Linked DNA regions of Homo sapiens: region 2 is linked to region 1. The links come from fine-mapping of genetic effects on gene expression. A gene starts in region 1. The other region holds a variant in brackets. All regions are shown on one strand. Distances are between the middles of the regions. Region 1 holds the start of CD63 (CD63 molecule). Region 2 has its middle 4.3 kb from the start of TMT1B.

Region 1 (5,372 bases):
TGAAGGGCCAGGTCTGAGATCAGCCACTTCCCACTAAGAGGCCCCTCTATCCTGCACCCCAGCAAACACATGGAGCTCTGTGTCAACTTTCCAGGCTGTAGAAGTGGGCCATTCTTTGTGTGTATGTGTGTAGTAAAATATATATAACATAAAATTCAGGGACATTGAGTACATACACATTGTGCAACCATCAGCACCATCCATCTCCACAACATTTTCATCTTTCTTTCTTTTTCTTTGAGACAGAGTCTCGCTCTGTTGCCCAGGCTGGAGTGCAATGGCACAATATCGGCTCTACTAAAAATACAAAATTATCCAGGCATGGTGGCGCATGCCTGTAATCCCGGCTACTCAGGAGGCTGAGGCAGGAGAATCTCTTGAACCTGGGAGGCAGAGGTTGTGGTGAGTTGTGCCACTGCACTCCAGCCTGGGCAACAAGAGCAAAACTCCATCTCAAAAACAAAAACAAAAACAAAAAACCTAGATGTTTATGGTTAAGGAAACAAATTAATAATAATAAAAAAGATAATATCGATTCTTACAAAATACAGTAATTAAGAAAATTAATCCTTTATCACAAACTTTTGTAGCAGAGCACATCTCTCCATATATACAAGCATTATACCGAGGGTGAATGTGTTCCTCCTCTTACTTTTTTTTTTTGAGACAGAGTTTTGCCGGGCACAGTGGCTCACGCCTGTAATCCCAGCACTTTGGAAGGCTGAGGGGGCGGATCACGAGGTCAATAGATGGAGACCATCCTGGCCAATATGGTGAAACCCCATCTCTACTAAAAACACAAAAATTAGCTGGGCGTAGTGGTGCGTGCCTGTAGTCCCAGCTACTTGGGAGGCTGAGGCAGGAGAATCACTTGAACACGGGAGGCGGAGGTTGCAGTGAGCCAAGATGGCACCACTGCACTCCACCCTGGTGACAGAGCGAGACTCCGTCTCAAAAAAAAAAAAAAAAAAAAGAGAGACGGAGTTTCACTCTTGTTGCCCAGGATGGCATGCAGCAACACGATCTCTGCTCACTGCAACCTCTGCCTCCTGGGTTCAAGTGATTCTCCTGCCTCAGCCTCCTGAGTAGCTGGGACTACAGGCACACATCATTGTGCCCAGCTACTTTTTGTATTTTTAGTAGAGACGGGGTTTCACCGTGTTGGCCAGGCTGGTCTCGAACTCCTGACCTCAGGTGATCCACCTGCCTAGGCCTCCCAAAATGCTGGGATTACAGGTGTGGTGAGCCACTGCGCCTAGCCCCTCCTCTTACTTTGGGGAACATCCTACTCTGTCTATGGAGCAGCTGTTGTTTCACCACTTTACTTTCTTAATAAACTTGCTTATACTTTGCACTGCGACTCGCCCTGAATCTTTCTTGCATGAGATCCAAGAACCCTCTCTTGTGGTCTGGATTGGGACCCCTTTCCTGTAACAAATGCATTGGCTGATAGGAGAATAAAGAAAAAAAAAGAGGAAAAACTAGAGTAACTTCTCTACATAATCATATTATATGACCGTTTTGTTAACCATGATAACAGTTAACAAAATAATTTTCTTATGTCTAATTCTCAGTCCATGTCTGTATGTCCCAAAATGTCTTTCACAGCTGGTTTGTTCAACCATTCAATGAAGGACCAAACATTGCAGTTGGTTGTTATGTATCTAGTCTCTCAATCTTGATCTTCAGACCACCTTCAGCCCATCTCACCACATCCGTCCCAAGCCCTTTGAGCCAGCCAACCCCAACCTGCCATGTACTTTACAAAATGCTCCTTTTTTTTCCACAGTCGACTGCTTCTCTGTCCCTGGAGCTCTCCCCTTTATTCTCCAAGGTCACCTTGAGCACATCCTTCTGCTCCGTGAAATCCATTCTCCTCTCCCTTTCCCTCCCTCTGAGCTTAACCAGCTGCCACCGCAGGCTTCTGCCTTTCTTCACAGTGTGGCCAGAACTCGGTTCTGCCTGCTAGCAGAGGGCAGGGCCGCTGTCTTCCTCTCCTTGCAGCCCCCAAGCCTAGCACATGCCTGGCATCTAGTGGCAGCACAATAAGGAACCTGATGAATACTCCTTTCTTCTGCTCTCCGCTCCTCCTCCACAGCCTGCCAGCCATGGTCAGGAAGAGCAAGATCCGGAATGGGCTTGGTGTGTCCCGCGGGAAGGCCGTGATCCTGGAAGATGCTTCTCAGCCCAGCCCGGATCTCCTTCCTTTAGCTCTAGAGACTTCTTTCATTCTTTGTGTACACACATACACTAAGACTCAGGAAGTGGTTCTTGAGGCAGGACCTTAAGAGCCCAAGGAGTGGGGCCGAGGCTGGAGGTGTGGGGGTGTGACGGCCGGTCCTACTCTCCGGCCTGTTCAGATCAGCTCCTTCTGGGGACCACCCCTGGCACACAAGGGAGGGAGGCAGCTTGATCCCCCTAGCCCGCTTCCAGCCCTCACCTGGCTTTGTCTTCTGGGATAAGACGGGGAAATCCAGAGGATGTAAGCCTCTCCTGCCTTCGTGTCTTCCCCCAAGCCCTCGCTATCACAGACGGATGCAGGAGCTGTCTGGGAGGCTGGAAGCACAGACCTTGTCAATCCTCCCCCAGAGGGCGGGACCCGACGCGGACGTGTCTTGATTGACTGGGTAGCGTGGCTTCGGGGAAGGGCTTCCTCCCCTTTTCTCAGACTAGGATCCCTGGAAAATGGAGAAGCTGTGCTAATAGAGGGGGGCCAGAAATCCCCACTCTAGAATGCTGTAGAATGTTGGGAGACACCCAGGATGTGAGCCAGGGACTTTCTGGAAGTGTTTGTTCTGGCCCCACCCGACCCCAGGCAGTCCCCAGCTGTCTGCACAGTCGGATGGGGAGGGGGCTTGCACAGAGTTGGAGCCAGAGGAGAGAGCTGGCTCATCCCCTACGGTAGGATGGGGAAACCTCACAGACCACATTGTCACCCGGCCTCAGCTCTCCGCCCCGGCGCTCAGAGGGTAACTCTCACCCACCTCGTCCGCTTCTCTGAACCAGAGTGACCCAGGCTGCGCTCCGCCCCGCTCTCCTACCCCGAGTTGGCACGGAGGTATAGCGCCAGAGGGGGGCCCCAGGCGCCCCGAGGTCTTGCCCTTGCGGCTTTCCCTTTGCGGGGGTGGGCGCCTTCTTCCGGGTAGGGGCCACGTGGCCCTGGCCGGGCGGGGGGCTCGGCCCACCCCGCGCCGGGCCCAGTGACTCAGGCCGCAGCTGTTACCGCGTCACATGAGGGAGGCCGGCGGCCACTCGGCGGGGGAGGGGACCGTGGCTGGAGCCCGGGGCGGGGCCGCGCGGCAGGCGGGGCGGGAGCCGGGGGGCGCAGCTAGAGAGCCCCGGAGCCGCGGCGGGAGAGGAACGCGCAGCCAGCCTTGGGAAGCCCAGGTGAGGCCGCGGGGACCCGGCGGACTTCGGCGCGGGCTGGGAGAGACCACCCGCAGTCCCTTCCTCCAGGGCTCGCCCCAGGCCCGCGGAGACTCGTCCGGCGCTCTCCAGCCGCCCTGGAGCAACTTTGCTTCGAAGTTCCCTGGGCCCGGGCAGGGTGTGGCGGGGGTGCTGGCTGCACTTTTTTTTTTTTTGGTGGGCGGGGAGGTCAGAGCCCAGGGGAAAGGGGCTGGGGCGGGGGTCGGGGTTGGGCTGAAGACCGTTTCTCCAGGCTGGGTGTTGGGTGGGGAAAGGGTGTTTGACGCCCGGAGACTGGCGGGCCGAGGGTCGGCGTCAGGCTCAAGCCCCTGCCGGCGCCCTTGGATCTGTCCTGGGCCCCAGAGGCGGCGGGGCGGGGTCCGGGCTTCGCGGCCGTCGCCCCCACCCCTCTCCTGCGGGTAAAGAGGGGGCTGGGAGACGTGGATCCGACCGCGGGTTTCCGGGTGGGAGGGGCCGGGAATCGGGGCCGTGAAGGGAAGCCCTCGAGGGCCGGCCGGGAGCCCGGAAACCGAGGTCCCCCTTCGGCCAGTTTTAATCCCCCCGCCCTCCCCTCTGCCCCAGGCCCGGCAGCCATGGCGGTGGAAGGAGGAATGAAATGTGTGAAGTTCTTGCTCTACGTCCTCCTGCTGGCCTTTTGCGTGAGTGGCGAGGGGTCCTGGGGGGCGCGCCGGCAGGGTGCGGGGAGACCTGGCTCCACAGTGGTGAGGGCTGAGGGAATGAGAATTAAGGCAGCTGGAGACCAGATGTGGAAAGAAAGCCAGGGAAAGACAGCGCAGCCACTCCCTCCTCCAGTTTTCCTGGACACCTGAGGCTTGTTTCCACCGAGAATGGCCATCCTGGGTGTGCAGCAACCCCTACCCCCATCCCTCCTGGCCCTTCCTGTCTGGTGACCCAACCACTTGTGATATGGGGCAGTGGGGCAACCAGCCAACCGCCTGATGCTATCGCCATGGGGCTTCCCTTCGCTCTCCCTTCTCCCCTCTCTCCCTCCCCAACCCTCTCATCCCTGTCCAGCCCCTCTCCCCCTTTCCCTCCTCCCAGCGCTTGGGGGTGAGGAAGGGCTCTGCCCACTTCAATTTGCTCCTGCCCTGGGCTCCTGGCTTGAGAGGCTACTGTTTGTCTAGGGAGGGACACATCACTCTTGCTCCCTTTTCCTCTTCCCTTCTCCTGGCCTAACTGGCCAGAGGAACCTTAGTCACAGCTGATGCGCGCGTGGGATGTGCACTGGAGGATAGTGAGGGGGCAGTTCTGGGAGAGAATTGAGCTGGGAGCCCTGGAGGCCTGTAGAAAGCATTATTCTAGGTCAGAAATACGTGTCTTGAGGTCAAGGCTTTCTGGGAGGTTTTTGAATTTGGTCATGTCCCTGATTAAAGAGCCGGGAGGGGATCAGGGGAGGTAGGGGCAGGCAAGGATGGGTCATCCCCCTACCCCACAGCCAAAGAAATTCCCTAGAGGTGTGAGAATCTCTCTTCCGGATGGGGTCAAGTCTGTGTCCTAGGTGTACCCCCTGCCCTCCACCATGGAGGGCCACTGTGTTGTGGATATGGCCTAATCCTCACCTGATTTTCTCTTAGGCCTGTGCAGTGGGACTGATTGCCGTGGGTGTCGGGGCACAGCTTGTCCTGAGTCAGACCATAATCCAGGGGGCTACCCCTGGCTCTCTGTTGCCAGTGGTCATCATCGCAGTGGGTGTCTTCCTCTTCCTGGTGGCTTTTGTGGGCTGCTGCGGGGCCTGCAAGGAGAACTATTGTCTTATGATCACGGTGAGTTGGGGGCGGGACCAACATGGGCGGTCTGGGACTGCCAGAGCAGCTTGGTTCGGGCTCAGGAAGGTGGGTGAGGTGGGTGGGTGAGGAAGACCTTTGTGAGTGTCCAGGGACCGGCTGTGCCAAAACGGGCCCCTGTAATGCATAGACTCCAAACTTGACTTCTGTCCTTTGCTCCTG
Region 2 (5,372 bases), 52 kb after region 1:
GGTTCATAGTTCTGCAGACTGCACAGGAAGCATGGCACCAGTATCTGCTTGGCCTCTGGTGAGGGTCTCAGGGAGCTTACAATCATGGTGGAAGACGAAGGGGAGCAGTGTATCACATGGCAAGAGAGGGAGCAAGAGAGACCTTGCGTGAACTGCCAGAGCGAGAACTCACTCATCACCAAGGGGTTGGCACTGAGCCACTGATGAGGGGTTGGGACCTCAGGAGCCAAACACATCCCACCAGGCCCCACCTCTGACATTGAGGATTACATTTCAACATGAGATTTGGAGGGGACAAACATCCAAACTATATCAGTTTCCTTGTGTTTCTTTGTAATCCATTCGCCCCTCTTTCATCCCCATCTTCAGGTAACCGCTGATCTGCTCTCTGTCAGTATAGATTAATTTCTCTTCTCTTCTCTTCTCAGGCAGAGTCTCACTCTGTGGCCCAGGCTGGAGTGCAGTTGTTTGATCTTGGCTCATTGCAACCTCCACCTCCCAGGTTCAAGTGATTCTCCTGCCTCAGCCTCCTGAGTAGCTGGGATTACAAGCATGCACCACCATGCCCGGCTAATTTTTGTATTTTTAGTAGAGACGGTGTTTCACCATATTGACCAGGCTGGTCTCAAACTCCTGACCTCGGGTGATCCGCCTACCTTGGCCTCCCAAATAGTTTGCATTTTCTGGAATTTTGTGTAAATGGAATCCTATAATGTATGGGATTTCAGCATCTGGCTTATTTCATTCAGCATGTTTATTTGGAGAGTCATCCATGTTGTACATGCATCCGCAGTTCATTTCCATTTCTGAGTAGTATTCCATTGTATGGATATACCACATATATTTTTATCCATTCACTTGTTGATAAACGTTTGGGTTGTTTCCAATTTCTGACTGTTAGAAATAAAGCTACTATGAACTGTTTGTGTACATGGGTTTGTGTGGACGTATGCTTTTATTTCTCTTGGGTGAATACCTGGGTGTGTATTTTGATGTTCAAATTGCCCTAGATTTGGCTGGGGGAGCACCTGCAAGCTGGCTCCTGTCTCCTTTTGACACAACTCCATCACTCTTTGAGCATTTTCTTACTTTCTGCTACAAGAAGATGTTCCAGGCTCATCTTGTATTTCCCCTGCTCCAGCCCCGAACTTAGTTATTTCTCAAAGAAGCACTGGTCTTTTGTGAGGAGGATGGTATTTAAAAACCAAGATCTGAATGCTGGATGTGATTATCACTGGGGAGTAATTGCTCCTGGGCCTGCTCCATGGACACAGAAAGAGGCAAAGTAGTATTATCCTGTGCTTTTTATTTGCTCTTTTCTTTTTCTTTTCCTTTTTTTTTTTTTTTTTTCCTGAGACAGAGTCTCACTCTGTCGCCCAGGCTGAAGTGCAGTGGCACTATCTCGGCTTGCTGCAACCTCCGACTCCCGGATTCAAGCGATTCTCCCTCCTCAGCCTCCCGAGTAGCTGGGATTACAGGCGCATGCCACCACACTTGGCTAATTTTTGTATTTTTAGTAGAGACAGGGTTTTACCATGTTGGCCAGGCTGGTCTCGAACTCCTGACCTCAGGTGATCCACCAGCCTCGGCCTCCCAAAGTGCTGGGATTACAGGTATGAGCTGCCGTGCCCGGCTTACTTACTCTTTTCTGCGTGAGGTTGAATTTTTGTTTCTTATAATTAAGAGCCTCTGTATTTCCTTTTCTAGAAATTTTCATTTTATTTTTTATTTTTGAGATAGCCTTGCTCTGTCACTCAGGCTGGAGTGTAGTGTGCGATCACAGCTCACTGCAGCCTCAACCTCTCAGGCTCAAGCAATCCTCCCACCTTAGCCTCCTGAGTAGTGGTCACCACAGGTATATGCCAACATGCCCAGCTAATTTTTCTTTTTTTTGAGACGGAGTCTTGCTCTGTCACCCAGGCTGGAGTGCAGTGGCATGATCTCTGCTCACTGCAAGCTCTGCCTCCCGGGTTCATGCCATTCTCCTGTCTCAGCCTCCCGAGTAGCTGGAACTACAGGCGCCCGCCACCACGCCCGGCTAATTTTTTTTTGTATTTTTAGTAGAGATGGGTTTTCACCGAGTTAGTGAGGATGGTCTCGATCTCCTGACCTCGTGATCCACCCTCCTCGGCCTCTGAAAGTGCTGGGATTGCAGGCGTGAGCCACCATGCCTGGCCAGACACACATATATATTTTTTTAAATTTTCTTTTTTTAATTACACTTTAAGTTCTAGGGTACATGTGCACAACGTGCAGGTTTGTTACATATGTATACATGTACCATGTTGGTGTGCTGCACCCATTAGCTGGTCATTTACATTAGGTATATCTCCTAATGCTATCCTTCCCCCCACCCCACCCCACGACAGGCCCCAATGTGTGGTGTTCCCCACCCTGCAGATACACAGATTTTCAATTGTGAGGGGTATCAGTCCCCTAGGTCCTGAGTTGTTCAAGGGTCAACTGTACAGCCATGTGCTGCATAACACATTTAGCTCAATGACAGAGCACATATATGATGGAGGTACCATAAGATTATTATGTAGCTGAAAAATCCCTGTCCTGTAGTGATGTCTTGATGATCCTGACCTTGTGTAGACCTAGGCTAATGTGTGTCTTTGTGTCTTAGCTTTTAACAAAAAAGTTAAAAAAATTTAAAAAATAGAAAAAGCTTATAGAATAAGGATATAAAGAAATAAAATATTTTTGTACAGCTGTAGAATATTTATGTTTTAAGCTAAGTGTTATTACAAGAGTCAAAGTTAAAAAAATTAAAAAGTTTATAAAGTAAAAAAGTTGCAGTAAGCTAAGGCTAGTTTATTATTGAAGAAAAGAAAAAAAAAATGTAAATAAATTTAGTGTAGTCACTCACTGACTCACCCAGAGCAACTTCTTGTCCTGCAAAGTCCATTCATGATATGTGCCCTATATAGGTATGCCGTTTTTAAATCTTTTATACTGTATTTTTTACCACACCTTTTCCACGTTTAGATACATAAATACTTAACATGGTGTTACAATTGCCTATAGTATTGAGTACAGTAACATGCTGTACAGGCTTGCAGCCTAGGAGCAATAGGTTA[C/T]GCCATATAGCCTAGCTGTATAGTAGGCTACACCATCCAAGCTTGTGTAAGGACACTCTATGATGATGTTCCCGTAATGGTAAAATCACCTAACGATGCATTTCTCGGAACTTATTCCTGTTGTTAAGCAACATATGACTTAACATGTGACTGTATATTCAGAGTTGTGCAACCAGCCACCACAATCAATTTTAGAACATTTTCGTTACCCCAAAAGAAACTTGTGCTTTTACCACTTACTCCCATTTCCCCCATCCCCATCCCAACCCCAGTACCATCAATTTCCTTTCCGTAGGCAATCACTACTCTACTTATGTCTGTATGGATTTACTTATTCTTGACATTTCATGTAATTGGAATCATACTACATGTGGCCTATGTGACTGGCTTTTCACACAGCATAATGCTTCCAAAGTTTACACATGTTGTAGCATGTATCAATACTTCATTCCTTTTACGTCCAAGTAGCATTGCATTGTACAGATATGCCACATTTTGTTTATTTATTCAACAGTTGATAGACATTTGGGTTGTTTCCACTTTTGGGGTACTATAAACAATGCTGCTATGAATTCTTGTCTTCATTTTATCTTTCTTTCTCCTAAATCATTAATCTCTGCCTTTCCATGGATCTTTCAAAATATGAATATGCTCTAATATATTTCAGGTTAATAATAAACTGACCCTCTTGACACCACATGTCACTTTAGCTAAAACTCCATTTTACAAATCTATGTCAAAGTCTTTTTTTTTTGGCAGGATCTTGCTCTGTTGCCTAGGCTGGAGTGCACCATTCTGACTCACTGCAGCCTCAAACTCCTGGGGTTGTGCTGCCCTTCCTGCTTCAGCCTCTTGAGTAGCTAGGACTATAGGTGCATACCACCATGCCTACTAACTTTTAAAAATTTTTGTAGAGACAGGGTATCTCTCAGGGTTGCCCAGGCTGATCTTGAACTCCTGGCCTCAAGCCATCCTCCTGTCTTGGTCTCCCAAAGTGCTGGGATTACAGGCGTGAGCTACTGTGCCAAGCCCAAGAAATTTTTATTAGTGATGGATTGGAGTGGGAGAAAGAGTGAATGGAAGGTGAGGAAACCAAGATAACACGAGCAGATGACTCAAGAATTATGACTTTGGGCGGGCGTGGTGGCTCGTGCCTGTAATCCAAGTACTTTGGGAGGCCGAGAGGAAATGACTGCTTGAGCCCAGGAGTTTGAGACCAGCTTGGGCAACATAGGCTGTTGTTTTTCTCTACAAAAAATAAAAAAATTAGCCAATTAGCCGGGTGTGGTGGCATGCGCCTGTAGCCCCAGCTACTTAGGAGGCAGAGGCAAGGGGATTGCTTGAGCCTGCAAGTTCAGGGTTACAGTGAACCATGACTGGGTCAGTGTACTCCAGCCTGGGAGACAGAGAGAGACCCTGTCTCTAAAAACAAAACAAAACAAAACAAAGAAACCCGAAACTATTATTATCAAGCCTATTAATTATTTCCACATGCCAGGTCCAGTGAATATTCCCTGTTCTCATCTTATCTGACTTTTCAACAGCTTCAGAAATAGTTGGCTACTATTTCTTCTTGAAAAATTCTCTCATCTAGGCTGTCCTAACATAACAGTCTTCTTGTTTCTATAACATTCCCGTGGCTGTTACTTCTTAGAAACTTCTTTTTTTAGATCTTTCTCATCTACTCGACCTTTAAATTTTGTTTCTTTGGGTTTAGTCTTGGGTCTTTCTCTGTCTAAATTCTCTCATTAAATAACCTCATCTTTTTTTTTTTAATATAGACTTTATTTTTTAGAGCAGTTTTAGCTTCATAGAAAAGTTGAGGAAAGTACAGAGATTTTCCACATACCCTTTGTCCTCACACATGACTAGCCTTCCTCATTATCAGTATCCCCCACCAGAGTGGACATTTATTACAATTGATGAACCTACATTGACACATAATTTTCACCAAATCCCATCCATTTTCATGGTTTAAAATGCCATGTATATGCAAATTATTCACACATTTATATCTTTAGTGCAGATCCTTCCTTTGAGTTTCAAATTTGTATACCCAGTTGTGTACTTGATCCTCCTCCTCAGCATATCTTCTGGACATATAAAACTTAACATGTCCAAAATGACACTTACGGTACTCCCCAAGTCTCTTGTCTTACTCTGCCCATCTTCTTCATCATCTCAGTGAATGGCACCATTAGCTTCTTGATTGCTCAACCAAAAACCTAGGATTTATTCTATTTCTTCTCTGTCTCCTCCTTTTCTTTTCTCATTTCTAACTTTGTATAA

Evidence for each region.
Region 2: its variant is fine-mapped to the expression of CD63 in whole blood (GTEx, PIP above 0.99).

What each region holds. Positions count from the first base shown.
Region 1 is chr12:55,726,968-55,732,339 of GRCh38, reverse strand. It overlaps CD63 (CD63 molecule), which reads left to right and starts at 3,331. Exons shown (of 8, transcript NM_001780.6): 1 at 3,331-3,387; 2 at 3,988-4,064; 3 at 5,001-5,189. The coding sequence starts at 3,999. It overlaps CD63-AS1 (CD63 antisense RNA 1), which reads right to left and starts at 3,246. Exons shown (of 2, transcript NR_183514.1): 1 at 2,985-3,246; 2 at 1,488-2,678. RefSeq lists silencers at 2,985-3,364, 3,635-3,934 and an enhancer at 2,899-3,505.
Region 2 is chr12:55,674,702-55,680,073 of GRCh38, reverse strand. No RefSeq gene overlaps it. Among named protein-coding and RNA genes, the nearest start is that of TMT1B, 4.3 kb to the left of the region's middle. The variant C/T (reference allele first, on the strand shown) is at 3,084.